Regions from separate parts of the Homo sapiens genome. Here region 2 is linked to region 1. The links come from fine-mapping of genetic effects on gene expression. A gene starts in region 1. The other region holds a variant in brackets. All regions are shown on one strand. Distances are from middle to middle.

The links. PIP is the estimated chance that this variant, and not a neighbour inherited with it, causes the effect.
Region 2: its variant is fine-mapped to the expression of UBASH3B in whole blood (TOPMed, PIP 0.92).

What each region holds. Positions count from the first base shown.
Region 1 is chr11:122,645,101-122,660,049 of GRCh38, forward strand. UBASH3B (ubiquitin associated and SH3 domain containing B) reads left to right here and starts at 10,622. Exons shown (of 14, transcript NM_032873.5): 1 at 10,622-11,110. The coding sequence starts at 10,950. RefSeq lists an enhancer at 10,527-11,028 and a silencer at 11,232-11,281.
Region 2 is chr11:122,706,422-122,721,370 of GRCh38, forward strand. The region is part of intron 1 of UBASH3B (ubiquitin associated and SH3 domain containing B); the gene reads left to right. Among named protein-coding and RNA genes, the nearest start is that of UBASH3B, 58 kb to the left of the region's middle. The variant G/A (reference allele first, on the strand shown) is at 8,107.

The DNA.
Region 1 (14,949 bases):
ACAGGCGTGCGCCACCATGCCCAACTCATTTTTTGTGTATATTTTTTGTAGAGACGGGGTTTCACCATGTTGCCCAGGCCGGTCTTGAACTCCTGGGTTCAAGCAATCCAGCCACCTCAGCTGGGTTGGGCTGGGACTACAGGCATGAGCCACCACACCTGGCCCACTAAAATTTTTATTTTTACTTTATTTTGTTTATTTTGTTTGTTTGTTTGAAACAGAGTCTTGCCCTGTCACCCAGTCTGGAGTGCAGTGGCTTGATCTCAGCTCACTGTAACCTCCACCTCCCGGGTTCAAGTGATTCTCCTGCCTCAGCCTCCCAAGTAACTGGAATTACAGGTGCACGCCACCATGCCCGGCTAATTTTTCATCTTTTTAGTAGAGACAGGGTTTCACCATGTTGGACAGGTTGGTCTCGAATTCCTGACCTCAAGTGATCCACCAGCCTTGACCTCCCAAAGTGCTGGGATTACAGGTGTGAGCCACTGCACCAGGCCTATATATATATGTGTGAGTGTGTGTGTGTGTGTGTGTGTGAGTGTGTGTGTGTGTGTGTATATATATATATATATATATTTTTTTTTTTTTTTGATACAAGGTTTCGCTCTGTCACCCAGGCTGGAGTGCAGTGGTGCAATCTTGGCTCACTGTAACCTCTGTCTCCCGGGTTCAAGCAATTCTCCTGCCTCAGCCTCCCAAGTAGCTGGGATTACAGGACCTCGCCACCAAGCCCAGCTAATTTTTGTATTTTTGATAGAGACGGGGTTTCACCGTGTTGGCCAGGCTGGTCTCGAACTTCTGACCTCAAGCGATCTGGCCACCTCAGCCTCCCAAAGTGCTGGGATTACAGGCATGAGTGACCATGCCTGGTCCACTGCAATTTTTAAATGCAATTTGCAATCAATAAATTTCCAGGTCACTGTTCCTCATCCCAGGCATTCCTGAGACATGATGAGGGTTACTAGCAATACAGTGTGACTCCAGAGGACAGTTCAACCTTCATCCTGAGAGAATTTCTATTTTAGATGCCTTTCAGAGGCTGAAGGAGTGAGTTAAACCTTCACTTGGCTTCACCTGAAACATTCATCTTCGCTGCTTTAAGGAACTTGCCCTTTCCTCCTAAGAGCACCAAGTCATAAGACATTTCTAGGCCGGGAGCGGTGGCTCACGCCTGTAATCCCAACACTTTGGAAGGCCGAGGCGGGTGGATCACGAGGTCAGGAGATTGAGACCATCCTGGCTAACATGGTGAAACCCCGTCCCTACTAAAAATATAAAAAAATTAGCCGGGCGTGGTGGCGGGCGCCTGTAGTCCCAGCTACTAGGGAGGCTGAGGCAGGAGAATGGCGTGAACTCAGGAGGCGGAGCTTGCAGTGAGCCGAGATCGCACCACTGCACTCCAGCCTGGGCGACAGAGTGAGACTCTGTCTCAAAAAAATAAAATAAAATAAAATAAAAAGACATTTCTAGACCCTGCTCAAGAAAGAAACAAGAACATTAATGTATAGCTTTAATTTCAGAAAATCTGCATTTCAACACTGATTTACCATCTTTCATCACTCTATTATCATGGGTTAGTCACATAATTTTTCTGAGCCTCAAATTTTTGTTGTTGTTCTTCCAAAGAAAAATGTATTGAAGCAACTTTCCCATGTTGTTTTGTTTTCTTAGGTGAATAATAATTAAACAAGGTATTATGCCTGAACGTGCTAGGAAATTGTAAAGAGCTATGTAAACACTATTGCCAAAGAGGAACAAGAGTGTGCCATTTTAGGTGGGCTGAAGTGGCACAGACAATCGAAGGCCAGGAGCAGTCTCAGTCCCCAGCTCTTCAATTAAAGCCTTGAGCTAAGAGGTGGATTAGGGCTTGCTTTTCTTCCCCTCTCTTAGTTTCCCTTAACGGGAGCTGCTAATAGAGGAGCAGGCCCTAAGGAAGCTCCTAGGAGGCTCCGTCCAGGCTCACCTTGCACACTCAGCCCCAGAGGCACCCACACACAGTCTGGTGGGAGGGCAATGACTAATGTAAAAAGTCAGAGCCAAGAAACTGGAAGAACTGTGCCTCTTGTCATCTACAGATGTGTTTTCCAAACCACACTTCCCATGGAACATTAGAGATTGGCTAAAATATTTCTCTTGCTGGTTCAGGCCAGCGCATTCTAGGAGGGTCATTTTCCCTTGATGCTCCCCTCCTCAAACTTCCGGTTCTCCTTGCTCCACTTCCTGTGTGTGCCCCTTAGACAGACCCTTCAGGGACTGCCTTTAAGGAGAATCCCCTTGAGGTTACTCACAGCACTCTGTGCACCAGACATGAGCTGGGGATGAAGGTCTGTCTAATTACCAACAAAATCAAGGGAGGGAGAAGAAAGATTATGACCAGGGCTCTGAGCCAGTCCAGCCAAGGTGCGGCTATGGGGTGGAAGAAAATTTGTTGGCTTTGGTCTCAAAACCAGGGAGAAGAGAAAATGCAACTGTACTTGTGCTATCAAGATGCCTCTCAGCTGAAATGCAATTCAAGTCCATTCAATAGACATTTATTAAGCCCCTACTGAGGGCACAGCTAAAGAAAGATGCATGGAGCCTTATGGAGCTCCCATTCTACCCTGGAGAGAAGCACTTAAGCAAATGAAATGCCCTTCATTGTGCTTGGTGCTATGATAAAGGGGTCACAGAGGACAGGATATCCACTTCCTCATGAAATCAGCCCATTCCCTTTTGAATATGTCTTATAATTAGGAAGTGTCTTTTCTCTGTTCCTTCTCCCTCTACCCTCCTAGCCCTTCCTTCCTCTCCTCCTCCTTCCATTTTTCTATTTCCCTTTCCTCTTCTTCCTTCTGCCCTGTCCCTCTTTTCTCCTCCCCTCCCAGGTCCTGCCAGCTCTGAGAACCTGAGGTCCTGCTTCCCACCCTCTCTGCCCCATCTATGCAATGTGGGCAAAGAAGGGAAGTGAGGTCAGGCAAGGCCTCTTAAAGGAGGCCAGAAGAAGGAAGAATTCCAGGCAGAGGGAACAGCATAAATTGAGAAGTATGGCCTTTCCCAAAAGGCTTGGGCAAGTATGATTTTCTTACTCATTTCTTGTCCCTGCCCATAATCTATCTCTTCCCCTTAACCTAAGTCATGAGGCTGAAAAAGCTTCTCCTGAACCTTGAAGCCCATTCAGCCTCAAAATTAGCTGCTCTAAGGAATACTAGTGTGGTAGGTAAAATAATGGCCACCTGGAGATAGCAAGTCCTAATCAGGGTTTTTGGAGATGTAATGATATTAAGGATCTTAGGCCAGCTGTGGTGGCTCACACTTGTAATCCCAGAAGTTTGGGAGGCCGAGGCAGGTGGATCACCTGAGGTCAGAAGTTCGAGACCAGCCTGGTCAACATGACAAAACCCGGTCTCTACTAAAAATACAAAAAAAATTAGATGGGCGTGGTGGTGCATGCCTGTAATTCCAGCTACCTGGGAGGCTGAGGCAGGAGACTTGCTGAAATCCGGGAGGCGGAGGTTGCAGTGAGCCAAGATTGCACCATTGCACTCTAACATGGGTGACAAGAGCGAAATGCCATCTAAAAAAAAAAAAAGAAAAAGAAATTGAGAATCTTGAGATGGAGAGACTATTCTAGATTATCTAAGTGGCCTTAATTGCGACCACAACTGTCCTTATAAAGAAAAGGTAAAAAGAGATGTCAGAGAGATGCACACAGAGGTGATGTGAAGACAGAACAAGAAGACTTGAAGATGCTGCCTTAAAGACTGGGGGAGGCCAGGCGCGGTGGCTCACGCCTGTAATCCCAGCACTTGGGAAGGCTGAGGCAGGCAGATCACGAGGTCAGGAGTTCGAGACCAGCCTGGCCAACATGGAGAAATCCCATCTCTACTAAAAATACAAAAATTAGCCAGGCATGGTGGCGTGTGCCTGTAATCCCAGCTACTCGGGAGGCTGAGGCGGGAGAATCGCTTGAACCTGGGAGGCGGAGGTTGCAGTGAGCTGAGATCGCATCACTGCACTCTGGCCTCGGCAACACAGCAAGAATCTGTCTCGGAAAAAAATATTAAATTATATTTAAAAAGACTAGGAGGATGTAGTGACAAGCCACAGAACTCCAGCAGGCACCAGAAACTGGAAGAGGCAAGAAATACATTCCCTTCCAGAGCTTCCAGAGGGAGCGCAGCCCTGCTGACACCTGAGGTTAGCCCAGGGATTCTGATTTAGAGCTTCTGGCCTCCAGAATTGTGAAATTAACATTTCTAATTGTTGTAAGCCACCCAGTTTGTGGTCATCGGTTACAGTTACCACAGGAAACTTGTACAATCAGATTCCTCCAGAGATGAAGCATCTCTTTTGCCTAGGAGTCTTTTGGAAGGAAGGAGAGAGGAGAGAAAAGAGAAAGAGGGTGACCTGTCCCTTCCTTGCTTAGATGCTGGCCAACACTGGTGGTCTCCAATCCAGAGAGCCATACTTGTACAAAGACTTGTCCTGGATTTTTTTTGTTTGATTGGGGTTTGTTTGTTTGTTTGTTTTCAGACAGAGTCTTGCTCTGTCTCCCAGGCTGGAGTGCAGTGGCACAATCTTGGCTCACTGCAACCTCCACCTCCCAGGTTCAAGCAATTCTCCTGCCTCAGCCTCCTGAGTAGCTGGGACTACAGGCATGTGCCACCAAACCCAGCTAGTTTTTGTATTTTTAGTAGACACGAGGTTTCAGCATGTTGGCCAGGCTGGTCTCTATCTCCTGACGTCGTGATCCTCCCACCTTGGCCTCCCAAAGTGCTGGGATTACAGATGTGAGCCCTGGTCTGTTTTTTTTTTTTTAATTATTTATTTATTATATTTTTTTGAGACGGAGTCTCCTTCTGTCACCTAGGCTGGAGTGCAATAGTGCGATCTCAGCTCACTGCAACTTCCACCTCCCCGGTCCAAGCACTTCTTCTGCCTCAGTTTCCCAAGTAGCTGGGACTACAGGCATGCACCACCATGACCAGCTAATTTTTGTATTTTAGTAGAGATGGGGTTTCACCAGGTTGGCCAGGCTGGTCTCAAACTCCTGACCTCAGGTGATCTGCCCACCCCAGCCTCCCAAAATGCTGGGATTACAGGCATGAGCCACTGTGTCCGATCTATTTTGTGTGTGTGTGTGTGTGTGTGTGTGTGTGTGTGTGTGTGTGTGTGTGATGGAGTTTTGCTCTTGTTGACCAGGCTGGAGTGCAATGCCGTGATCTCGCCTCACTGCAACCTCTCCCTCCCTGGTTCAAGCGATTCACCTGCCTCAGCCTCCTGAGTAACTGGGATTATAGGCATGCACCACCATGCCCGGCTAATTTTGTGTTTTCAGTAGAGCCGGGGTTTCTCCATGTTGGTCAGTCTGGTCTCGAACTCGCGACCTCAGGTGATCCGACCCCCTCAGCCTCCCAAAGTTCTGGGATTACAGGTGTGAGCCACTGCGCCTGGCCAGTGCCAGGTCTATTATTATTATTTTTAATAAAGATAGGGTCTCATTATGTTGCCCAGGCTGGTCTCAAACTCCTGGGCTCCAGGGATCCTCCTGCTTTGATTTCCCAAAGTGATGGGATTAGAGGCATGAGTCACCACATCTAGCCTAAATTTACATTTAAAAACGTCTATTCATCTGGGAGAGGTGGTTCACCTGCCTTTAATCCCAGCATCTTGGGAGGCTGAGAGGAAGGCAGAAGGATCACTTGAGGCCAGGAGGTAGAGACCAGCCTGGGCAATATAGCAAGACCTTGTCTCTACCCAAAACAAAACAAGTCTATTCAAAATGAGATCTTGGGACCAGGTGTGGTGGCTCATGCCTATAATCCCAGCACTTTGAAGGGTTGAGGCAGGAGAATCAGTTGAGTCCAGGAGTCCAAGACCAGCCTGGGCAACACAGCAAGACCTCATCTCTCCAAAAAAAAAAAAAGAAGCTGGGCATGGTGGGACACACCTGTAGTCCCAGTTACTCAAGAGGTTGAGGTGGGAGGATAGTTTGAGCCCAAGTTGAGACCACTGCACTCCAGCTTGGGTGACAGAGCAAGACCCTGAAAAACACAAAGCAAAACAAACAAAACAAAAGAAAAAAAAAGGAAAGAAAAAAACACTTAAAAAAATTAGATCTTGGCCATGCCCTGTGGCTCATGCCTATAATCCCAGCACTTTGGGAGGCTGAGGCGGGCAGATCACTTGAGGTTGGGAGTTCGAGACCAGCCTGGCCAACATGGTGAAACCCTGTCTCTACTAAAAATGCAATAATTAGCTGGGCGTGATGGCACATGCTTGTAATCCCAGCTACTTGGGAGGCTGAGGCAGGAGAATTGCTTGAACCCGGGAGGCAGAGATTGCAATGAGCTGAGATCGTGACACTACACTCCAGCCTGGGTGACAGGGAGAGACTCCGTTTCAAAACAAACAAACAAAACAAAAAACAAAAAAACTCCCAACATATAAAGCTGATAGACTTACAATGAAAGAAAAGAGGATACCACACTACCCTCTTAATCCTCAGTTGGGTGACCCCAACCCCTGTCCCTCAAAGTTCCTGGGGGTCCCTTGACAAAATCCTAGCGATCCCCAGGCTAAGCTAATCCCCTCATTTGGCAAGCAAGGAAGTTGAGGCCCAGAGAGGGGCAGCACATGGTTTCAAAATCTTCTGACCACGAAGGATCCCCTTAAAGTCTAGGGGTGAAAGTCATTCCCAGCAGTTCCAAAGCTGCCTTTGTTTGGCAAGGCAACACCCCAGCCTTTAGGATTTGAAACAGTGGGCAGACTTTACTGCCTGTTTTTGTTGTTGTTGTTATTTGTTTGTTTTTTTGTTTTGTTTTGTTTTGGGACGGAGTCTCGCTCGGTTGCCTAGGATGGAGTGCAGTGGCGGGCGTGACCTCAGCTCACTGCAGCCTCTGCCTCCCAGGTTCAAGCCATTCTCTGTCTCAGCCTCCCGAGTAGCTGGGATTACAAGCACCTGCCACCACACCTGGCTAATTTGTTTGTATGTTTAGTAGAGACAGGGTTTCACCATCTTGGCCAGGTTGGTCTTGAACTCCTGACCTCGCGATGCACCCGCCTCGGTCTCCCGAAGTGCTGGGATTACAGGCATGAGCCACCGCGCCAGGCCTTGTTTGTTTTTTTTAACAGGGTCTCACTTTGTCACTCAGGCTGGAGTGCAATGGTGCCATCTCAGCTTGGCTCACTGCAACCTCGACCTCCCAAGTTCAAGCAATCCTCCTGCCTCAGCCCTCCAAGCAGCTGGGACTACAGGCACACACCACCATGCTGGGCTAATTTTTATATTTTTAATTAAGATGGGGTTCACCATTTTGCCCAGGTTGGTCTCAAACTCCTGAGCTCAAGCAATCTGCCCACCTGCCTTAGCCTCCCAAAGTACTAGAATTACAGACCTACTGCATGTTCTTATTGTTATTACTTGACCGTTCCTCAAGGACAGAGTGAAGGAGAAGGAGAAGATATAGGACATGCTTCAGAAATTGTGAGTGCAGCCAACTGGGTCCATCCTGGGTCTCCCTCTGGCCATCTGAGAGGATGTACCATAGCAAAAATATGGCAGGGGCCAATGAGGGAGGGTTAAACATGCTCACATGAACAAAGAGAGCTTTGTGGTCCAGAGTGGATTCTGACATGACCACACACGGAGACATGTCAACTTGCTTTCCCTTCTGAGGGAGGAACTTCATGCTGATGTGTCAGCTCTGTCCCTGTGCAAGACCCCTACTCCCATCTCACTTCTTTTGGCCACTGTAAGATATACTGCCAGATGAATAGTCATTTCTCTTCTCTCAATTTATTTATTTGTTTAGAGATGGAGTCTTGCTCTGTCACCAGGCTGGAGTGCAATGGCATGATCTCAGCTCACTGCAACCTCCGCCTTCCAGGTTCAAGCGATTCTCCTGCCTTAGCCTCCGGAGTGGCTGGGACTACAGTCACATGCCACCATGCCCAGCTAATTTTTGTATTTTTAGTAGAGATTGGGTTTCACCTTGTTGGCCAGGATGGTCTCGATCTCTTGACCTTGTGATTCGCCCACCTCAGCCTCCCAAAGTGCTGGGATTACAGGGGTGAGCCACCGCACCCAGCCCCCCTCTTCTCTCTTTGTAATAGAACAGTGTAGACATTTATGAAGCTTTTCCTAGCTTTTCAACGTCAACACAATTAAAGCACAATGCATCTGAATTGCCAGCCCCCCAACCCAGTGCAGAACAAATGGCAGGAGTCCTAAATAAAACAGGGGTTTGCACTGAGCTGAAGACAAGTGAGGAAGCCAAGCTGGGATTTCTGTAAAAGTGTCCCAGACAAAAACAGTTTGCATCTCAGGTGCCTAGTTTTTCATAGTGCTTTTTCCAGTCTACCTAAAACTATTTTTATATGCATCATTTCCTTTATCTTACAGTTTGCCTAAAGGCAGGGAGAAAGACAATTAATTCAATTTTTCTGGAGAAACAGAGATCCAGCAATTCTATGTCAAGGGGCATAGATGGAGTCAAAAAACTATCTTAAAGGCTGGTGTCCTTTTATCATCATAACAATGGTCGTTAACTAGTTGTTTGGCCAAATGTTAAGAGTTCAAATCTTGGCTCTGCCATTTACTAGCCATGTGACCTTGGACAAGATACTTGACCTCTGGCTCAGCACCTTCATTTGTAAAGTAGTTCCTAGTTCATAGTCTTGTCAAGGAATTGTTTGAGTCACATATGTAAGAAGCAAAGAACAACACCAGCATATAGTAAGTACTCAATAAATTTGAGTTATCATTTATGTAGCGCTTTATGGTTTACAAAGCGCTTTCACATACATTATTATCTCTTGACTAAGATCCAGATCATTTGACTTTCAGCCCAGGCATTTGGAAACAATTCAGAATACTGGATAAAATCCAGCATGTTTTACCGAACACATCCAAGGAGGCTAATACTAGGTATGGTGTTGCCAGCCCAGTCTTGTCTTTTTGCTCCATGTCCTGGAAGAGCATTCTGCAAGGTCTCCAGGATATCCCCTTTGCTCTGGAAGCAGCTACTACCCAGGAAGCATTAATTTTCCCTCATCCTTTGTACAGCAGGAGGCAGAATTAATACACATTGTTGCTTAAGCTCCAGCTGTCTTATCTCCCTGCTTCCAAACACCACTGGCTATTCTTTAGGAAACCAATTCCGGGCTCAGGGAGTTACACTGTATCATTTCCCCTGGTAAAACCTTCACAGGCCTTATAAAGCAACCTCAAAAAGCCACTCCATGGGTGCTGGTCACCATCCCTCCCCCATATTCCAACCAGGGACAGGCCCGGACTGACATTTCTGGAAAACCCAGTGTGTGCAAGGTTAGGTTACCACGGTCCATACCAATGAGGAAATTAGGCTGTAGAGAGAAGTAACTTGTCTAAGGCACCGCAGTGGATACGAGTGCTGTAGCTACGCACTTACCAGCTCTATGATCTTCCCCAACCTCTCTGAGCTGAGTTTTCTCATCTGTAAAACTGGGATAATGATTAAACACACTCCTAGGGTCAGTATAAAACTTCAGTGAGTTCATTCATTACGATTAGCACAATGACTGGCACATACAAGAGCCCAATAAATGTTAGGTTTTATTATTATTATTACCCAAAAAAGACTATCAGTTAGGGTGTACTCATTGCCTCTTTCATTATAGCAAGTGGGACCCTTGTCCCTGACTGAAGACAATGACTTTGTTTCCAAACGAAAGAGGGTTAGCATCCCCCAGCCAAATTCACCAGGTGGGGCATGGGGCATCAATATGGTTGTGGCTTCCACCATCTTTGCAGTGGGAGTAGTTTTGTCCAGCCTATGATACAATTCACTTATTATTGTGCAGTGGTGATTCGGTCCGTCTTTGAATCCTTTTATTGACAGGATATCCACTCCCTAATGAAATAAGCCCGTTCCCTTTTGAACACCTCTTATAATTAGGAAGTATGTTTTCTCTGTTCCTTCTTCCTCTACCCTCCTAGCCCTTCCTTCTTCTCCTCCTCCTTCCTCCTTTCTTTTTCCCTTCCCTCTTCTTTCTGCCCTGTCCCTCTTTTCTTGTCCCCTCCCAGGTCCTGCCACCTCTGAGAACCTGAGGTCCTTCTCCCCAACCCCTCTGCCCCACCGGGAAGGCACTATTCAGTCACTGACCATAACCTTGTAGAGCGCAGTAGGTCTTTAGTGCAGCCACTTGGCCGGCTGATTGGGAACTCAACTTCCGATGGTCCTAACAACCCTTTGGGTTTTGCAGGATCTTTGAGAAGCAAAACCTTTTACCTAGGCCTTACGGCTTGGCCTTCTGGTCCATTAGTATCATCCACCAGTTCACCCAATTTCCATTAATAACCGCATCTAGAATCACATGAAACTTGAGATGGGTTGATCTCCTGTCTTGAGGCCCAGCTGGGCGGGTATGCCAGCCAAGGAGAGGGCTGGGGCGCCGGGGGTGACTCTCGGGAGGTGAAGCACACAAGCAGCCCATAAGGTTGGGATCCTCCGTCTCCAAGTAGCGCGACTACAGCTCTTGCCCGCACGGAGCAGCCTCGGACAGCGCGGCCGCTTTAAGAGAGGGGCGGGGCCCGGGTACAGGCAAGTCAGGGCCAGCCCACAAGGCTCCTTTTCCTTTTTGATCCATTCAAAAATTACTCATTGCAAATTCCCGGACTGCTAGGCGAGGAGAGGGAAGGGGGCGGAGGAGACAGGGCTACTGCAGGCGCAGAGCTGGGGGCAGCCGGGGGCCCGAGTGGCTGAGGCTGGTCCCGCAGCGGCCGCTTGCCGGCGTTCTGGCTCCTGTGGCCTCACCAGGAAGCGTCAGAGTCCCGACACTGGGGAAGCTCGGAGCGCCGCCTCCGCTGCCGCCGCCTCCTGCCTGGCTCTGGGTCCCCGAGCCCCCTCCCCTGGCCCAGCCCGACTCCCTCCTCCTTCCCGAACCATCCGGCTCGGGCTCCTTCCCTGGCGATGGCTGGCCGCTGAGCCATGGCTCAGTACGGCCACCCCAGTCCGCTCGGCATGGCTGCGAGAGAGGAGCTGTACAGCAAAGTCACCCCCCGGAGGAACCGCCAACAGCGCCCCGGCACCATCAAGCATGGATCGGCGCTGGACGTGCTCCTCTCCATGGGGTTCCCCAGAGCCCGCGCGTAAGTGGCCGGGCTCGCAGCCCTCGGCGACCCCTCCCGCGCGCGCGGCCGGCCCTCGGCTTCGCTCCGGCTCGCCTCCCAGCGCCTGCGGGACAGGCAGCGCGCTCCCCGCTGCCCGAGACCTGTTGGGGGCGGGATGGGCGCGCTGGCAACCCGGGACTCGGCTCCGGGCGGGGGTGCGGGGGAAGACGCGGCGCGGGGGCGTTGGGCCAGGGCTCGCCGTGGGATGCCTAAAGCTGGGGGACGAGGGCGCGGGGTTCGAGTCCCGGGTATAGTGCTCAGCCTCCGCCCCAGCCGGGTGGAGCTCAGCGTTTCTCTCGCGCGCTCCCCTAGGTCTCCAGCGCCGAGCGCCTAGGGAGGCGGGGCCCTGCGGAGGACTCGGGCACCCTCTCCGTCTGGAATACTGGGCTGGTCTGGGATCCTCCGGTGTCTGGGAAAGGGCGGGAGACTGCGGGGCAGGGAGGCCGGCGCCCCCGTTGCAGCGGCTTCCAGCTCCGGATGTCGCTCTCGGGTTCGGTCTCCCCCTGGAGTAGGAGGAGCGGGAGCGTGGGTGTTCCTGCGTGTTCATTGATGGGGAGGATGGAATCAGAAGGAGAAGCGATCCCTCCAGGGGACCTGGGTTCTCGTCAGTGGTGACGGCAGCTCAGAAATCTGTGGGTGCCTGAGAGTAAGGAGGGGGAGCTGTTCTTCATCCTTCCTCTAGGAGAGTGGGGTAGGGGAGGGCAGGGAGAGCGCAGGTGGCTGCCCCTGGAGCCTGCTGGGGAGAGGCCTGTTTGCCAGCATAGGGTGGCGGCGGCCGGAGTCGTCTCAGGCCGGTCGGCTCAAGTCTCAGGGGCTGGAACTCTGCCTAAGAGGAAGCCAAGGCCCAGCGGCCAGGCCCTTCTCCCCTGGTTAATCCCTGCCGTGCAGATTTCTTAGGTGGGGACACAAGGCCTGGCGTCCGGACTGGGCGCAGCTTCTTTTCATCTTTGAATTACAGCACCTGAACAGGAGAGTTGGCCAAACTTAATCAGTGAGGGCCAAGTAAATGAAAGTCCTTTTTATTTTTTTCCCTTCTCACATTTTTTTTTCAGGTGATAACTTTATTTATGTATTTATTTTTCTGAGACGGAGTCTCGCTGTGTCGCCAGGCTAGAGTGCAGTGGCGCAATCTCTGTAACTTCCGCCTCCCAGGTTCAAGCGATTCTCCCACCTTAGCCTCCTGAGTAGCTGGGACCATAGACATGCGCCACCACACCGGGCTAATTTTTATATTTTTAGAAGAGATGGGGTTCTGCCATGTTGGCCAGGCTGGTCTCGAACTCCTGACCTCAGGTGATCCACCCACCTCGGTCTCCCAAAGTGCTGGGATTACAGGCAATAACTTTATGTCTCCCCTCCCTTATCTCTGGGCAAACCTTGTTTATTCTCTACTAACTTGGTTGTAATCTGTTAATCAAAGTAGACCCTTGAATTTGTTATTCTCCAGGCTGCTGGGACACGTTGGAGTGGCCTTAGAAGGCTGCAAAATGGACTGATGGTTTCTGCCTTCCACTGACGTCCCAATACGACTTCCTAATACTAGGGCTCCAGTTCCTGATACCAGAATTACAGGGAGAAAATGTGGGTTCTGCAGGGGTGTGTCAGGTGTGGACGCTTCAGGTGAAGTCGTCGGTGTGGATGATCAATGTGCACAGCTCTCCTTAAAAACTGGAGGTGGGGCTGGGTGTAACCCCAGCAGTTTGGGAGGCTGAGGCAGCCGGATCACTTGAGATCAGAAGTTTGAGACCAGCCTGGCCAACATGGTGAAACCCTGTCTTTACTAAAAATACAAAAATTAGCTGGGTGGGGTGGTGCATGCCTGTAATCCCAGCTACTTGGGAGGCTGAGATAAGAGAATCGCTTGAGCCCAGTAGGTGGAGGTTGTAGTGAGCCAAGATCGCACCACTGCACTCTAGCCTGGGTTACAGAGCGAGACTTCATCTCAAGAAAAAAAAAAAAAAAAAGCTGGAGGTGGGAGTGGGGAAGTCAGCTGGGGAATGCTGCAGAATTAGCATAGTCTCAGGCTACTGCCTTTTTTGAAATAAGGCCAGCATTAAAAACCTAAATTGCTTAATTAAGGGAAGAAATACTTAACTGAACTCCTCAGTCATATTTGAGATTCAAATTCAAATCAGCTTTAAAGGGACATCTTTTCTCCTGCTCTGAGTCCAGGAGGTCTTGACATGTCTTGACAGATTAGCATAAGGGTCATTTTTGGCTTGTTTAACCCCTGAGGTCTCCTAATAGCTAGCATGTATTGAATACTTACTCCATACTGTTCTAAGTACTTATATCTTTATTACCCATTTTATCCTCCTAGCAACTCAATGAGGAAGGTACCACATGCCCATTTTATGAATTGGGCAACTGAGGTTTAGAAGGGTTGCATAACTTGCTCAAGGTCACAACAGTAAGCAGTGAAGCTGGGATTCAAACCCAGGTATTCTATCTGCACAGCCCAGGCCTCACACCATCTAGGGCCAGTAGGGCCAGGATAGAAATGATTGAATGTGGGTAAAATGCTTAGAACAGTTCCTGGCACATAGTGAGCAATCGTGAAGTGTTAGTTACTGTATTAGCTTCCTGTGACTGCTGTAACAAATTGTCACAAACTGAGTGGCTTAGAACAGCAGAAATTTATTCTCTCACAATTGTAGAGACCAGGAGTTGAAAATCAGTATCGCTGGGCTGAAATCAAGGCATCAGCAGGGCCGTGCTCCCTCTGGAGGCTCTAGGGGAATCCACTCCCTGCCTCTCCTACCTTCTGTTGGGGGCTGGCATTCTTTGGCTTGTGGCTGCATCAATCCAATCACTGCGTTTGTGGTCAAATTGTCTTTGTTTTCTGTCTGTGTCCAATCTTCCTTGGCATGTCTCTTATAAGGATACATGTGGTTGTACTTAGGGCCCACTTGGATAATCCAGAGTAATCTCCCCATCTCAAGATCATTATCTGCAAAGTCCTTTAAAAAAAAATGTATAAGGCGGCATTCACAGCTTCTAGGGATTAGGATGTGGGTGTCTTTTGGGGGATCATTATTTAGCCTATCACAGCTATTATTATATTACTACTAGCACTGCCCCTCTTTACCAAAGAGGTAACAAGAGCAGGCCTGGAGAGAGGGAGGTTGGGTTTGCTGCTCTTTTTCTTAAATTCTCTGCCTGGAAGGGAGTGAAGGTCCTGGAGGTCACCTGATCTAGTTGGACTCCTTGCCCAGGCTTGCTTCCCTCCTCTACTTCAACCCAGAAAGGCTGATGTGGTCGGCCTTCCCCCCAGTAACTTAGACCAGTATGAAGAGGGGCCCTCGGAGGCTTCAGAGAACAGGCATTTAACTTCATTTTTGAGAGTTGAGAAGAAAGAGCAAGGGCATCGGGCTTAGCTCATCAGAAGCTTCTCTCTTGAGCTTTATGCCTGGAGGGCTGAGCATAATGAAAATCCAAAGCCCCAAAGAGCAGTGATGGTCTCCTGGGTCTAGAAGACTTGGATGTGATGCTTTAAGAAGGGGTAAGATGGTTGTCTCAAACCTGGCCCTTTTGACAGACTGACATTAGCCAGGGCTGACAGCTCTAGGCCCTTTTGACAGAGTGACAGCAGCCAGGGCTGACAGCTCTAGTTTCCCCTATGGGTGTAACTGGGTCTGGTGGTGTGCGGCACCAAGAAGGGGCACTCAGGCCAGGCTCTTGGTGGGCTGGCAGAGAGGGTTGAGGCCAGCAAGGCTGGATCCCACCCAGCCCGTGCTGGGCTGCACTGTGCTGTGGTCTTGCAAAAGTCACTTAGTCCCCTCAGGGCCATGCTGTTGCCCTCTGAGGGGAACGCAATT
Region 2 (14,949 bases), 61 kb after region 1:
GGCCATCTGTGGGGAAATTCCTCCCATAAAGGTCTGGAGAAATAGCTTTGTTGCTAACAACTTGTGTTGTTAAGCTAGAGAGTGTACATTCTGCATTTTACTCCAGTACCTAGATACGAGATTCTTTTAGGAAGTTGCTGATTTTCTGAGGGTGTCTGTGGAAGGGCTCAAGGATAGCCTTCAGAATGATGAGTTTGAGGCTTGCTGATCTCCTGATGTTGGAATCTAACGAGTGGACTTGTAGGCTTTTAGAGGAACTATGTAGATGGATAGTTATAGAAATCCTTGGCTAGGAGTACCAAGAAGAAACATATATGTACGCAATCACATACTGAAAAGGGAATATAAGATGGAGAATTTCAGCTGCACATTTCTGTAGATTAACATGTTTATATGGCAGAAGATTGCACCATTCTAGGTAAAAGAAAATTGTTTGTCTCTAAATCTATCTGGGTTAATGGGCTACATTCTTCAGTCCTGACTTTGGACCTAAATTCTGTTGTCATTAGTCCACAATGAAATGAGTCAAGTAAAAAAGAATGCCAGTGGAAGACTGGTAGATGATCTTCCTTAGAAGGAAGTTCCTTTTATTCTGAGATGGTACCCTTTCTACTTTTTTTGTGATTAAAACATCCTTACTTTTATGAACTGATGGTGGTAATTGATCATGGGGATTTCAGATGCAGATTTTTGCTGGAGAAAATTAAACATTAAATCCACACAATCCACCCCCGCCTACCCCATAGACCCCTGTTTTTCAAAGGATATTGGTCCATAAAATCCAAATATCTGGGACTAGCTGACCTACTTACTTTCTTGGAAGCCATTAGGCAATGACACTCTCCTGTCCCAGAAGAACAGGCTACAACCCTACTCTGCAGGCTTTTCCACTATTTTCCTCTTGCTTCTGACGGGGAGTGGTAACCTTTTCCTAACGTGTGCCTTCTCTGCGTGGTGCCTCTTCTACTCCTTGCAAGAGAACAAATTTGCCTCTTCCTCCTCTGGGCTGCCCAAGCACCTTGTTTGTACTTTGCTTAGCACTTGCCATGATAAAAGACAATTATTTGAATGAGCCTTCTTTCTCACTAAGTTGTGAGGTTTCTGACAGCTTATCTTTTTATTTTTTATTTTTTGTCATTACTAACCACAATGCCTGGTAAATATATATTTGCTGAATGAATAAGCAACCTAAATCTCAGGTGGCAGTTAAAGGCTATTGTCTCATTTGTCTCTTCCAGTAGCAATAAACAGCTAATCTAATATATAATTTTTATTTTTATTTATTTATTTTTTTTGAGATGGAGTCTCGCTCTGTTACCCAGGCTGGAGTGCAGTTGCGCAGTCTTGGCTCACTGCAACCTCCGCCTCCTGTGTTCAAGCGATTCTTCTGCCACAGCCGAGTAGCTGGGATTACAGGTGTGCGCCACCACACCCAGCTAATTTTTGTATTTTTGGCAGAGATGGGGTTTCACCATATTGGCCAGGCTGGTCTCGAACTCCTGACCTCAGGCGATCCATCTGCCTTGGCCTCCCAAAGTGCCGGGATTACAGGCATGAACCCACTGCACCTGGCCTCTAATATATAATTTATGATGCCTGAATACTACGATAGAGTTCTTCTTTGGCTATCTCTTCTCCTGACATCATAATACTAGGAAACACACTGAGCCAGAAATCTGAAAACTGGGCTTTAGTTCCAAGCCACTTACTCTTTGGAGACTCAGTGTCCAAAGGAAAGGAATTAAGAGCAGGTTCTCACCACCATCTTCAACATGCTAGAGAAGAGAGGCTAGGAGAGGTTGCTCCTTAGAGGTGAGATGCTGACTATTCTCCAAGGAGTTTTGTTAAGTCATTTTGAACTTTGCTTGGCTTTTTTTTTTTTTTTTTGAGATGGAGTTTCACTCTTGTCACCCAGGCTGGAGTGCAGTGGCACAATCTCGGCTCACTGCAACCTCCGCCTCCCAGGTTCAAGCAATTCTCCTGCCTCAGCCTCCCGAGTAGCTGGGATTACAGGCATGTACCACCACACCCAGCTAATTTTTTTGTATTATTAGTAGAGACAGGGTTTCACCATGTTGGCCAGGCTGGTCTTGAACTCCTGACCTCAAGTGATCCGCCCACCTTGGCCTCCCAAAGTGCTGGGATTACAGGTGTGAGTCACTGTGCCCGGCCTTCTTGTTTGGCTTTTGGTAACCTATTTATTCATTCATTCTTCCAAAAAGTTTTATTGCCAAATAGACAGCACCATTCACTTGCATCCCTCAAAAAGATCCACGCAGGTTTTGGAGTCAGGCATCTCTAAGTATGATGTTGGCATGAGTCTTGGCTCTGTCTTCCAGGAGCCATGTAATATGGGGCAAGTTCCCATTTTAGGTTTCAATTTTTCTCACCAGCCGAAAGCATATAATAATCCTTCTGTCACAGTTACTGAGAAATGAGAACATGTATATAATGTATCTAGCCAGTGTTCAGTACATGGTCATTTCCCATCACCTTCCCTTAATGCAGAACCCAGCCAACTTAAACATGATAAACTCATTCATGGTCAGGTACGGTGGTGCATGCCTGTAACCCTAGCACTTTGGGAGGCTGAGGCTGGCAGATGGCTTGAGCCCAGGAGTTCGAGACCAGCCTGGGCAACATGGTGAAACACTGTCTCTACAAAAACTACAAAAATTAGCTGGGTGTGGTGGCACATGCCTGTGGTCCCAGCTCCTCAGGAGGCTGAAATGGGTGAATCACTTGAGCCTGGCAAGGCTGCAGTGAGCCATGATCACACGACTGCACTCCATCCTGGGTGACAGAGCAAGGCGAGACCCTGTCTCAAAACAAACTATGTTATTGGAGACTTAGAAGTCTTCACTTTCCCATCCCCAGCCCCACCTTCATGTCTACGTTGTAAAAGAGGCTGCAGCAAGAGGGCAATACCAATATCTATTCCAGGGGAAGAATTTGGTAATGATGGACTTTCAGGAATAAAGGTTTGGGGGAAAAGCTGAGATTTCATCACTTACAAGTGAGCCGCTGTAGAAGCCAGTCAAATGTATTGCGTGGTAAGCGAGCTTTGACTTTACTAAATCAGAAGGGGATGGGGAACATGTGTGGGTGTTGGAGTGATTAGAGATTCAGTGTGTTTGTGTCCTGCTGCTTTGATTCCCTTATTAAAGAGAATGAAAATAAACCCAGCAGCTGCTGGTTAACTCTTTCTGGGTATAGGCCTACAATCAGCAGAAATGCTCCAAGTCATCAAGCATTCCTGACATCCTGGGTGGAATTATCTAATCTAAGGCTTTTGCAAGGGAGGAATTTGAGTCCCCACCTAGCCTTTTCTCCTAGAGTTCTGGAAGAGATTATCACACGGTCTCAAAAACTAGAGCTCTAACCTGTTTTTGGTTTATGTGTTTGTTCATTTGTTAGTTCATTCATTTGCCTAGATCAAAAGAGCATTCTCGAGGCCAGGGGCTGTGGGTCGCGCCTGTAATCCCAGCACTTTGGGAGGCTGAGGCAGGCAGATCACTTGAGGCCAGGAGTTCGAGACCGCCTGGCCAACATGGTGAAAGCCCGTCTCCACTAAAATTACAAAAATTAGCCAGGCATGGTGGCGGGCACCTATAATCCTAGCTACTTGGGAGGCTGAGGCAGGAGAATTGCTTGAACCCAGGAGGCAGAGGCTGCAGTGAGCCGAGGTCATACCACTGCACTCCAGCCTGGGCGACAGAGTGAGACTGTCTCAAAAAAAAAAAAAAAAAAAGCATTCTGAATCATGGATTTAAGATAATCATAATAAACAACATGGTCTAGCTTCTAGGTTCTCAGAGCAGAAGAAAGATAAGGCCAACAGTTAGAAGACAGAGGTAAATGCAGTTTAGGAAAGGCATTTAGGAGGAGGCGAAAGAGCAAGTCCCGGAGCGGGCTGGTGGTTGGAGAGATGGTGGGGCCACCATTGTTGTGCACGCTTATTACAAGCCAGGCATTGTGCTGCCTTCTGCACACATTATCTCTGTGTCATCACAACCACCCTGCAAGGCAGGTCCAGTCTCATCCCATTTCTTGAAAAGAAGGCTCAGGGACATTAAGGACCAGACATGATCTCCCCCACCTGAAAAGTGGCAGAGCCAGAAGTCAAACGTTCATCCATCCATCTGGTCGTGGTATCCTCAATCTCTGCCTCCAGAAGCGTGTGATCTTGCTAAATCATAGCTAATGCCGATATAGCCAAAAATGGACAAATAAAGGCACCAAAGTAGAAGTGGTATAGGGGGTGGAAGCTGCCCCATAAGGGCCTGCTGGGGAGAATTGGGGAGGGGGACGGGGCATGTAGAATTGGTAGGCAATGGGAACACAGAAAGCCCATGCCGCATACCACTTCCCTAGAGCTTTTGACTCTCATTCCATAAGGAGAGGAACCCCAGGTGGGTAGGCTTTGTCCTGGGGGCAGGGTGGTGGGGGTGGAGATGGTAGAGCAGCCATGGGAACATAAAGGCATATACCCTGGATTTTCAGGGATAATCATAATTTTCAAATCATCCCTTTTCATTGACAGGCCATAGAGGAAACATTGGTCTTGACTCTTGTTTCAGAAAATAAGGTCCCAGCAAAGTCAATGGGTTAGGAAGTGTGGGAGCCCTGTTCTCTGATGACTGTTGGAAACGAGATTCATGGAAGGAAGCCTGGGCTCTCCTGACTCTGTGCTTCAGTGTCCAGGCAGAATCTCCTCAGTTAATTCTCCAGAAGAGAGCCCCCACCCTTCCTCTTTATACACTCTGGCAAGGGAGCTCCTAATCTTGCAGTCCCAGGCTCCCAAAATCTCTGTAGCAGACATTTTTGGGGGTCCCCCATCTCCTGTCCAAACCTTGGAATTCGTAATCATTTTAGTGCTTAGGGAAAGAGAGGAGAGGTAATCAGACCCTATTCCAAATGCATCTCTTTCCTTCCATTTTTCTTTCGTCACTCTCCAGCCACGTGGGTCCCATCACAAGTCATCAATAACAAGATGGTCACCCCTGAGTCCAAGGGAGGCTCACAAGACTCAGGCAGAGTGAAGCTGAGCACAGGGCAGGATGTGATAAGCAGGCCTGAACGGAGCCGAGGAAGGCCGGGCACTGGCAGCCTTTAAGTGCCTTGCAAGGACATGTGCCGGGAGTGCGTGTATGCCTCTAAGTCTCCTGAGCATGCCCCCGGGCACTTCAGCCTGGCCTTGGCCTCATTACTACCTCATGCTGTGTAACGGGCACAGGTGCATGTGGAAAAAGAATCAAGGTTTTCTGATAGAACCAATTTCCTTTACTGGAGTTTGCAAATAACCTGCTGTCCTTGGGCCTTTGCATTTCCATCTCTAAAATGGGAATACTAATCCTGCCTTCAATGTCCCACTGACTACATACACCCCTCACAAAGATACTGTGAGGAAGAGTGAGTAATAGCAAAGAATCTTAAGGCTAAAAGAACCCCAGGGTTCATTTTTTTCTATCCCTTTACTTCCAGCCAAGTTCTCTACACAATAATACCCATACCAAAGAAAGGAATGTGCCGGGCATAAAGACCATCTAGAAAGGACAGCCCGCAGCTTCCCCTTGGTTTGAAGCCAAGTTGGAAGTTGTCATGCCAGCTGCATTTTTTTTTTTTTTTTTACTGCATTGCTGTTCATCATCAAGTAATTCAGGGCACTAGGGGGAAAAAACTTCTCTGAAAATGAGGGAGTGATTTGCAGCATCTGTTATTTCCTTTTTAATTGAATCTGTTCTTCTCAGATACCAGGAGCAAGTGCCAAAGTCAGCAGTAGAATTCAGCTGTGTACATTTTGAACGAGCTGGAAGATAAGTTTATGAGCACTATACGGATGCAGATTGTACAGAAACCAGATGGCCATATTGTCCTCAAAGTCCTCTGGAGGGCGGTAGCTGACATGAAGCTCCAGCATGAGGAGGTGGGAGGTCTGCTGACTTTCCTAAGGAGCTGCTTGGGTAGATACACACCCAGGGTGGACTTGGATGCTTCCTTGGTGGGGGACGCACGTCACACGAGAGGGGCTTTCTCAGCAGCCCAAATGGACCCAGGGGCTCTCATGCTTGCTTCCATCCTGGCCCTGAGTAATAGGCATAAACCAGGGTCCTGTTGGTGCTCGCTCTTTTTCCCTCACATTCTGCATCCTGTTGAGCACCAGGAGGGTCACCAAGGGAAGCTAGGGAATTTCTACCCCAGAAAGTACCCAACAGCCCTGACTAGCTGGGAGGCAAGAGGAGAACTCCATGGGTTTCACAGGTACCTTCCTACCTGTGGTGTTGCACAAACAAAAGCAAACGCCCTGAAGTATATAGAACTCCACTACCAAGTGCAGCTTCTTAACAGCAGTTACATTTGCAGGAGAAGAGGGGATTTTGCTCCTGGATGAATGAGGAATAGTGGTACAGGGATGTACATCTCTGAGCTGAGCCCCAGGAAGCTGACTGGACATTCATCTTTCTTCTCTGGGTGGTTTTTTTTTTTTTTTTTTTTTTTTTTTTTTGAGATGGATCTCGCTCTGTCGCCCAGGCTGGAGTGCAGTGGTGCGATCTCGGCTCACTGCAAGCTCCGCCTCCTGGGTTCACGCCATTCTCCTGCCTCAGCCTCCCGAGTAGCTGGGACTACAGGCACCCGCCACCACGCCCAGCTAATTTTTTGTATTTTTAGTAGAGACGGGGTTTCACCATGTTAGCCAGGATGGTCTTGATCTCCTGACCTTGTGATCCGCCCACTTCGGCCTCCCAAAGTACTGGGATTACAGGCGTGAGCCACTGCACCCGGCCCAGTGTTCCTCATTTTCACACAGAGGAGTTGAGGCTCACATGGGATGAAGCTCTCTTTAGGGCACACAGGAGGTGCACTGTAGATCCCAAGAATAGCCACACGACGAAGAGAGGCTTTGGTTTGGGAAGTAAAAAGCCATGTGGTCAGCTGACTCTGCGGCATCAGACGAATGCATGTGAAATCATGGATCTCACCCACCTGAGGAAGGTGGGAAGTTACATCAACTGTGATAATAGATCTGTAGATGCAAAAGGCCTTGGAAGGAATATCCTATGGAAATAGAAGATATATTACAGCTTTAGCCTCTTAGGAGTGTGTGTGATTTGTCCAAAAAGATAAGCTTTATGTTAGCAATTATAAAGAAACTATAGGCATGTTGCATTTTTCTGAGAGCCATGGCCAAATTCTTGGTAAGAGTTTTTTTGAAAATCATAGTATTTTATTTTGGGGGCCCTAAAGTTTATTTATCTCAGCCACTCCCAAATCTGGCCACATGTCAGTCATCTCCAGCCTGGGCGACAAAGCGAGACTCCATCTCAAAAAAAAAAAAAAAAATGAATGTTCAGGGTTATTCCTGAAAATTCTGATCCAGTAGGTCTTGGGGAACATGGGAATCTGTATTTTTACTGAACTCCACCAGTAACTCAGATATGCAGCTGGCTTTGTGACCTCATCCAGTGCAGCCTTCCATCAGATGTTTATATCCAGGTTAGAAACCACCTCTGGATAACTTAAGCAGGAAACGAGTTTAGGTGGCTCACAGAACTATCAGGGGCATGGATAATCAGACTCTGGAAACAGGCAGGAGTCAAGGACACTGCTGCAGACACTTGCCGTGACCCCTCCACTCTTGGTCACCTTAGGTTCCAAAGTCTTTAATGGGAGTAGTTGATTGCCTTCGTCTAAGTCATATGCTGGGCATCATCTGTCAGGAAGCTGAAAGACAGAACATCTGCCCCATCAGTTTCTTTAGTGGGGCTCCCCCTTCGCTCATATTGGGATTCCCCTAAATAAGAAGAGTGCTTAGATACTGGACAGCCAAAACAACAATTGCTGTCTACAGTGTTGCCACAGTCATCAAGACTGCGCTTGAACTCCTCCATTCTTGGGGAGCTCACTACCTTACAAGGCCATTCAATTCTCTCTAAATCGGCCTTCCTGAAATTGCTACCTATTGGCCCTTAGGGTCAAGCCTTTCTCAAAATCTCATATTTAGGGGACACTGAAGAAGAACACCTTCTGAACTTCCTCTTCTGCTTTTACTTTAAAACCTGAAGCAAGTGAGAGGCAGACCTCTTTTTCCAGGTATTTGGCCCAGAG[G/A]CAGCGGGGTAAAATGGAGAGAGTGAAGGATTGAACTCAGTCCTGGCTCTGACTCCTGGTTCTGCTGCTTCACGGTCGTGTGACTTTGGACAGATTGCTTCACAACTTGTGACCCTCAGTTTCCTCATCAGTAAAACTGAAGATACTGATGGTGAGAATTAAGCCTGAAATGTGCTTCCTCTTTCCATCTTCGCACAGAGTGAAGCAATGTCAGCTGATGATGGGAAGGCAGGGTAGGATGGTGTTGAAGAACAGAGGTGTCTGGCAAGCCTGTGTCTGAGCCCGGGATGCACTCATTATCTGCATAACCTTGTACAAAGTATTTACCTTCTCCTTCTCTCATCTGTAAAGTGAGTGCAATTTTAGTACCCATGTCATAGAGTTGTTCTGAAGACTAAATGAAATAAATTTTTTGTTGTTGTTCTTGTTGTTTTTTGAGATGGAGTCTCGCTCTGTCGCCCGGGCTGGAGTGCAGTGGCGTGATCTCGGCTCACTGCAAGCTCCGCCTCCCGGGTTCACGCCATTCTCCTGCCTCAGCCTCCCGCGTAGCTGGGACTACAGGCGCCCACTACCACACCCGGCTAATTTTTTGTATTTTTAGTAGAGACGGGGTTTCACCGTGTTAGCCAGGATGGTCTCGATCTCCTGACCTCGTGATCCGCCCGCCTCGGCCTCCCAAAGTGCTGGGATTACAGGCATGAGCCACTGCGCCCAGCCGAGATAAATGTTAAATGCTGACACAGTGCTTAGCATTTAAATAACACTTAAGATGTCATGTCTTATTATTGATTGGCGGTTGAGGTGGGACTTCATGGTCTGGACAGACCTTGCATTGCTGCCATCAAAAGTTGCCTCCTTCAAAACAGTTGTAGCGCTGCTGTCAGTGTCTGTTAAGAATGAGGTGGTGCATATGCTACGGCAGAGACAATCCAGAAAGCTTCTGAATCAATAGAACCTCTGAGGCTGTTGTAGCTTTGGCATAGCTATCATCTTTTAGGGCCATTTACCCAATGTGTCACCAAAGAGACACAGCAGAAACTGCTGGAGAAACACGGATCCGAAAGCCCAGTAATGACGGCTCCTCTCCTCTTTCTATTCTCTCCACCCATCTGTTCCCCTACTTCCTTCAAAGCACACATAGACACACACCCCTTTTGTCTCTCTCAAAACAGGGGATAATTAAAAAACCAAAATCCAAACATCCAGCAGAAGTTTATGCTTGAGTCTCAGAACACAACATATGGCTTCCCAGCCATTGCCAGGTTCTGTAACCACAAAGAGAGAGGTCTCCAGCCTCCACCGTGGTCCCCTGGCTTTGCCACTATTTGCTGACAGAGGCAGCACTCCTCCGCCAAGGACTAGAGGGTCATGGTGTTCAACCCCTTGAATTGTAGTCAAAATTACATTTTCCTGTCATTTGAAAATGCTCCAGAAACAGAGGAGATTCAAGTGCTTCCTTTCTTTGTCCCTGTTTCAGCTTTCTCTTTCCAGTATTGGATTAGAGGCAGCAGGGACTGTGGAGAGAGGACGAGGAGGTGGAATTTCCTGATCGTGATGCAGTGTCCCTCTGTGGGGGCAGAAAAACTGCACGGTAGTAGCAGCAAGCTGGGGCTGGTGAGAACTGCGAGAGGAAGGGGGATCTCAGCTGCAGAGGAGAGCTCTGAGACAGGGTCTCACTCTGTTGCCCAGACTGGAGTGCAGTGGCTCAATCCATGACTCACTGCGGCCCCAGCCTCCTGAGCTCATGTGGTCCTTCTGCCTCAACCTCCCAGCTTGCTGGGACTACAGGCATGTAGCACAATGCCCAGCTAATTTTTTTGTATTTTTAGTAGAGACGGTGTTTTGCCATGTTGCCCAGGCTGGGTTATTTTTTATTTCTATTGCCCAAGTCACATGGAGGAATTGTGTCAGATTGTAGTAAGAAGAGGATGATTCTACCTTATCCTCCCTCCACAAAACACACACATATGCCGTGAGTTAGCTTTTCATCTCTGCCCCTCTAATATCCCTTGTGTGGCCTCTTGCATGGGGAATCGCTGTCCACCCAGAGACTTGGGACATCAGGATGTCCTTTCACCTCCTGAGGCAAGGTTGCCTGTGGGAGACCTTGCTCAGAGCTTTCAGTCTGCCCCGCTCTGTAAGGAGGTTTGGGTTGCAGACATGTCCTTTCTCCACCTGAAGGCAGGTAATGCAACCACAATGTCACCCAGTTCTGTAAAATTCCTGTCTAAGGAGTCCAGTTCAGTTTTCTGAATCTTGAACAGCAGACCAGGCTAAAGAGGGGAGCCCCAGAAAGCTTTGCTGGAAGGAAGAGAAAGACAAAAGCCTTGCCTTTTCTCTCGGTAGAAGCTGTCGGTCATGGCTCTTCTAGCCTCACAATTTGGAGATGTTAGATGGAATCAGGATGATTATAGCCTCATCTCCCCTTCTCCCGTCCTGTCTAAGTAGTCACACAGATTGATGCCTTAATTTCCCATAGCACAGCCGAGGCCAAGGTGTAACAAACTGAACAAGACTTTACTAGCAGCTCAGGATCAGGACTATGCTTAGGACCAGCCCATTCTCAGGGGGTTCCCTCAAAGCTACCACTGTATGACAGAGATCCCTGTCCTCTCGCCCCCAGAAAAGTCCTCAAGTTTTGCCAGACTCCTGGGAGTACTAGCATAAGAAAGCAAGGCCCAGAGACATGGAGATTCTCTCTTCTTCTCCCACCTAAGGCCTTCCTTCCAAATCCTCATTGCCTGTCCTAAGAACCACCACTTCCTGGACTAACCGATAGCGGAAGGGCCAGGTTCCCTCTCTGCCCCTGAGGAAGTGATGCTACCCCACAGTCCGAGGAGATAATCACATCAGAATATAGCAGACCTGCAGTAGTGTGAGAGATTTCCTGGCAGTAAGAAGGGGTAGGGAGGAGGATGTCCTTGTCACACCCAGGCTGCCTGGATCCTGTGGCCTCCACCACATGCATTAGGCGTGGCTCTGGCCACAGATCAGTAGAGGGAGAAGCACTGCACACAGCACGGATGCTTGTAAATGTCAATTGCCCTCAGTGGCTATAATTAGTTTCTCTGGTACCCTGTGTTCAGCAAAGTGGGGAAACAGCCCCTTAGAAAGTGTGTATTTTCCACCGCTGTACCTCGTGATATCACCACAGGTGCCTTCTGGCTGACCCCAAGTTTCTCGTTGTTCTCCAGGAACTGCTGTGACTGTTGGTGGCAGTTCTATAACTCTGAGAAGTCACAGGGGGCCCGGTCAACCACCAGCAAATGACTTCCTGTTCCCTTCCCCTACTGTCCCCCACCCCCCATGACACTAGGCCAGTCCTTGCCTGGTGAGAATAAATTCAACTGTACGTGGATTTCTCACCCAAGTTTCTTTCTTTCTTTTTTTTTTTTTCGGACAAGTCTCACTCTGTCACCAGTCTCACTCTGTCACCCAGACTGGAGTGCAGTGGCGCCATCTTGGCTCACCGTAACCTTCGCCTCCTGGGTTCAAGAAATTTTCCTGCCTTAGTCTCCCAAGTAGCTGGGATTACAGGCACCCACTACCAAGTCTGGCTAATTTTTGTATTTTTAGTAGTAGAGACGGGGTTTCACCATGTTGGCCAGGCAGGCCTCGAGCTCCTAACCTCAAGTGATCCTCCCGCCTTGGCCTCCCAAAGCGCTGGGATTATAGGTGTGAGCCACCATGCCCGGCCTCACCCAAGTTTTAAACACGTCCAAGAAAGTGGATGCATACCTACCTAGTCTAATGTTTAAAATACATTTCGGATGAAGCATTTCTTGTTCTAAAACTACTTAACATAGAGCCCTGGCGCCTCAGATTCCTTGCAAGTCACTAAGTCAGTGCATGGCATTGGGTACTAGTGTTATATTATTGGGCAGACTTGTGAAAGGATGTGGAGTCTCAGACTCCAGGTTTGAATCTGCCATCTCCAGCCGTGTGACCTTGGGCAAGTTATTGAAGCTTTGAACACTGGCTTCTTGATCCATCAAATGGGATATTTAGGGGGGAAATGGGATAGTAGGGATTGTGTGAGGATTAAGTATGATGACATATGTAAAAGCAAATTAACACTGCACCCAGCAGGTCCTCAATTATAGTACTTTTTATATTCATAGTATGGAATAAAGAAAAGTCTTTTTGATTGGAGCCCCAAAAAAGGGATATTAGAGGGTCAGAAATGAAAAGCTAACTCATAGCGCATGTGTGTGTTTTGTGGCGGGAGGGATAAGGTAGAATCATCCTCTTCTTACTCCAATCTGACACAATTCCTCCACGTGACTTGGGCAACAGAAATAAAGAATAACCCAGCCTGGGCAACATGGTGAAACACCGTCTCACCTAAAAATACAAAAAATTAGCTGGGCATTTTGCTACATGCCTGTAGTCCCAGAAACCTGGGAGGTTGAGGCAGGAGGACCACCAGAGCTCAGGAGGCTGGGGCTGCAGTGAGCCATGATTGATCCACTGCACTCCAGCCTGGGCGACAGATTGAGACCGTCTCTCAAAAATAAATAAAAAACACTTACTGAGTATTACCATGTGATAGCTGCTGTTCGAACAATCTAAGCATGATTACGTTAGATTGGTGATGGGTATTCTTACACTGCCAATTTACAGATGGATTAACTAACACGCTGAGGTTAAAAGTAACTTGTCTAAGACCACGCGGCTAATAATTGGGAGTGCCCGGAAGTCAATTCCCTTCTCTAAGCTTCAATTTCCTCATCAGATGATTGGTTTAGATACCCATGTCCACCAGTGCTCAAAATTTTACATCTGTGCTAAATTTAACCAGGAAATTTGGGAGTTATGTTAGTGATGTTTGCAATGGAAAAGAAATGGTTTAGGAAACTTAACATGGCTTGAAACTCTTTAAAAGTCTTTCTTACCATTTTTCTTGTCCCTTTCTTTCATTACTCTCTCCTTGTCTTTTCCCCTTCGTCCTCCTTAAAATAAGTCTCTGAGAGGGAAAAACCTGTGGTTCACATCATGAGTTCATCAGAACCAGGCATCTATGTATCCCATCACATAGGTCAAGGAGCCTCCCAGCAAAGGTAGTAATAATCAGCCTTAGTAGCTGGAAAGATCATTTCATCTGTTTCTCTTCTTGCAAAACCTAAAGTGTTAAATCAGATTCTTGAACAGTAACACTTCCCAAACAAGTTGTCTCTACTGGCTGTTTCCACTTCCTATCCTCCTCTTTTCTCTTAAACTTATTTCAATCAGGCTTCTGTCACACTGCCCCCCAAAGCTGCTGTCATCAAGGTCACTAATGGCCACAGTAGTGCCATATATTGTGAGCAATTCCATCCTCCATCAGCAGCATTGGATGCAGGCGATCAGTCCTCTCTCGATGCTTCCTTAAAGACCCTTGGCTTCTAGGAGTTTCTTCTCTCTTAGTCCTCCTACTGCAGTGCCTGCTTCTGCTCCAACTCCTTGGCTGGCTTCCTCATCTCCTCACCTGTAAATATTGGAGAGCCCTCAGCTGAAAACCATGGACCCCTTCTCTCCTTTGTCTAAACTCACCCCCATAGTAGTCTCCAAACTCCTGGCTTTATGTACTATCCATATGCTGACAACTCCTGCACTTACATCCCCCACCCAGTCCTCTCTCCCATTTTCCAGACTCCGTACTCAGCATCTCCTATGGATGTCAAATAGGCATCTCAAACATGGGTCCTCCCACAGTCTTGTCATCTCCAAGCAGGATAACTCTTTCTTCCAGATGTTCATTCTAATGCCTTGGAGTCACCCTTAGCGCCTCACTTTTTCCATCCAGTCCATCAGTGAATCTGTCAGCTTCGCCGCTTCCACAGATCCAAATCCCTGGCATTCTCTCTTGCTTGTATTATTGCAATTGCCTCCAAACTGGTCTCCCTGTTTTGGCTTTTGCTTTCTTGTAGTCTCTTCTCATCAGAATAGTTGGAGATCCTTTCAAAGTGTAAGGCAGATGGAATCACTCCACTGCTCAAAATGCCCCAACGTTCTCTGTGTTACAAAGTTAAATCTAAAGCCTTCCTGTCTCTAGGGTGTTCCCTTGCTACCTCTCTGAATCTGTTTCCTAGCATGTACCTCCTTGCCCATTCAGCTGAAGCCACATGGTCTATTCTTTGTTCCTTGAATACACTACACACGCCATTGCCTGGGGCCTTTGTGCTTGCTCTTCCAGGAAGGCTCTTCACACAGCTATCCACAGAGCTCTCCCTCCCTGACTCATTCATTACCTTTATCTAATCTTTCCATGCAAAATAGGAATCCCTTCCCACCCTTCCCTGCCTTATTTTTTCCAAAACGCTTACTATAACTGTCCTCTCCCCTAGAATATAAACTGCATGAGGTCAAAAATCTTTGTATTTTTTTTTTCTCTGCTATATCCCCAAGGCTAGAAAAATGTCTGACACATAGTAGATGTTAAAAGAATGAATGACTCGGCCAGGCGCGGTGGCTCACGCCTGTAATCCCAGCACTTTGGGAGGCCGAGGTGGGCAGATCACAAGGTCAGGAGATGGAGACCATCCCGGCTCACACGGTGAAACCCCGTCTCTACCAAAAATACAAAAAATTAGCCAGGCGTGGTGGCGTGTGCCTGTAGTCCCAGCTACTCTGGAGGCTGAGTCAGGAGAATCGCTTGAACCCGGTGGTGGAGGTTTGCAGTGAGCCAAGATCGCGGCACTGCACTCCAGTCTGGGCAACAGAGCAAGACTGTGTCTCAAAAAAAAAAAAAAAAAAAAAAAAGAATGAATGACTCTAGGTCAGTTTCTACAACAGATGCTGACTGACCAGCCAAGCTCTTTATGGAATTCTGTTCACTTAGAGTAAGCAAATCTTCCACAGCAC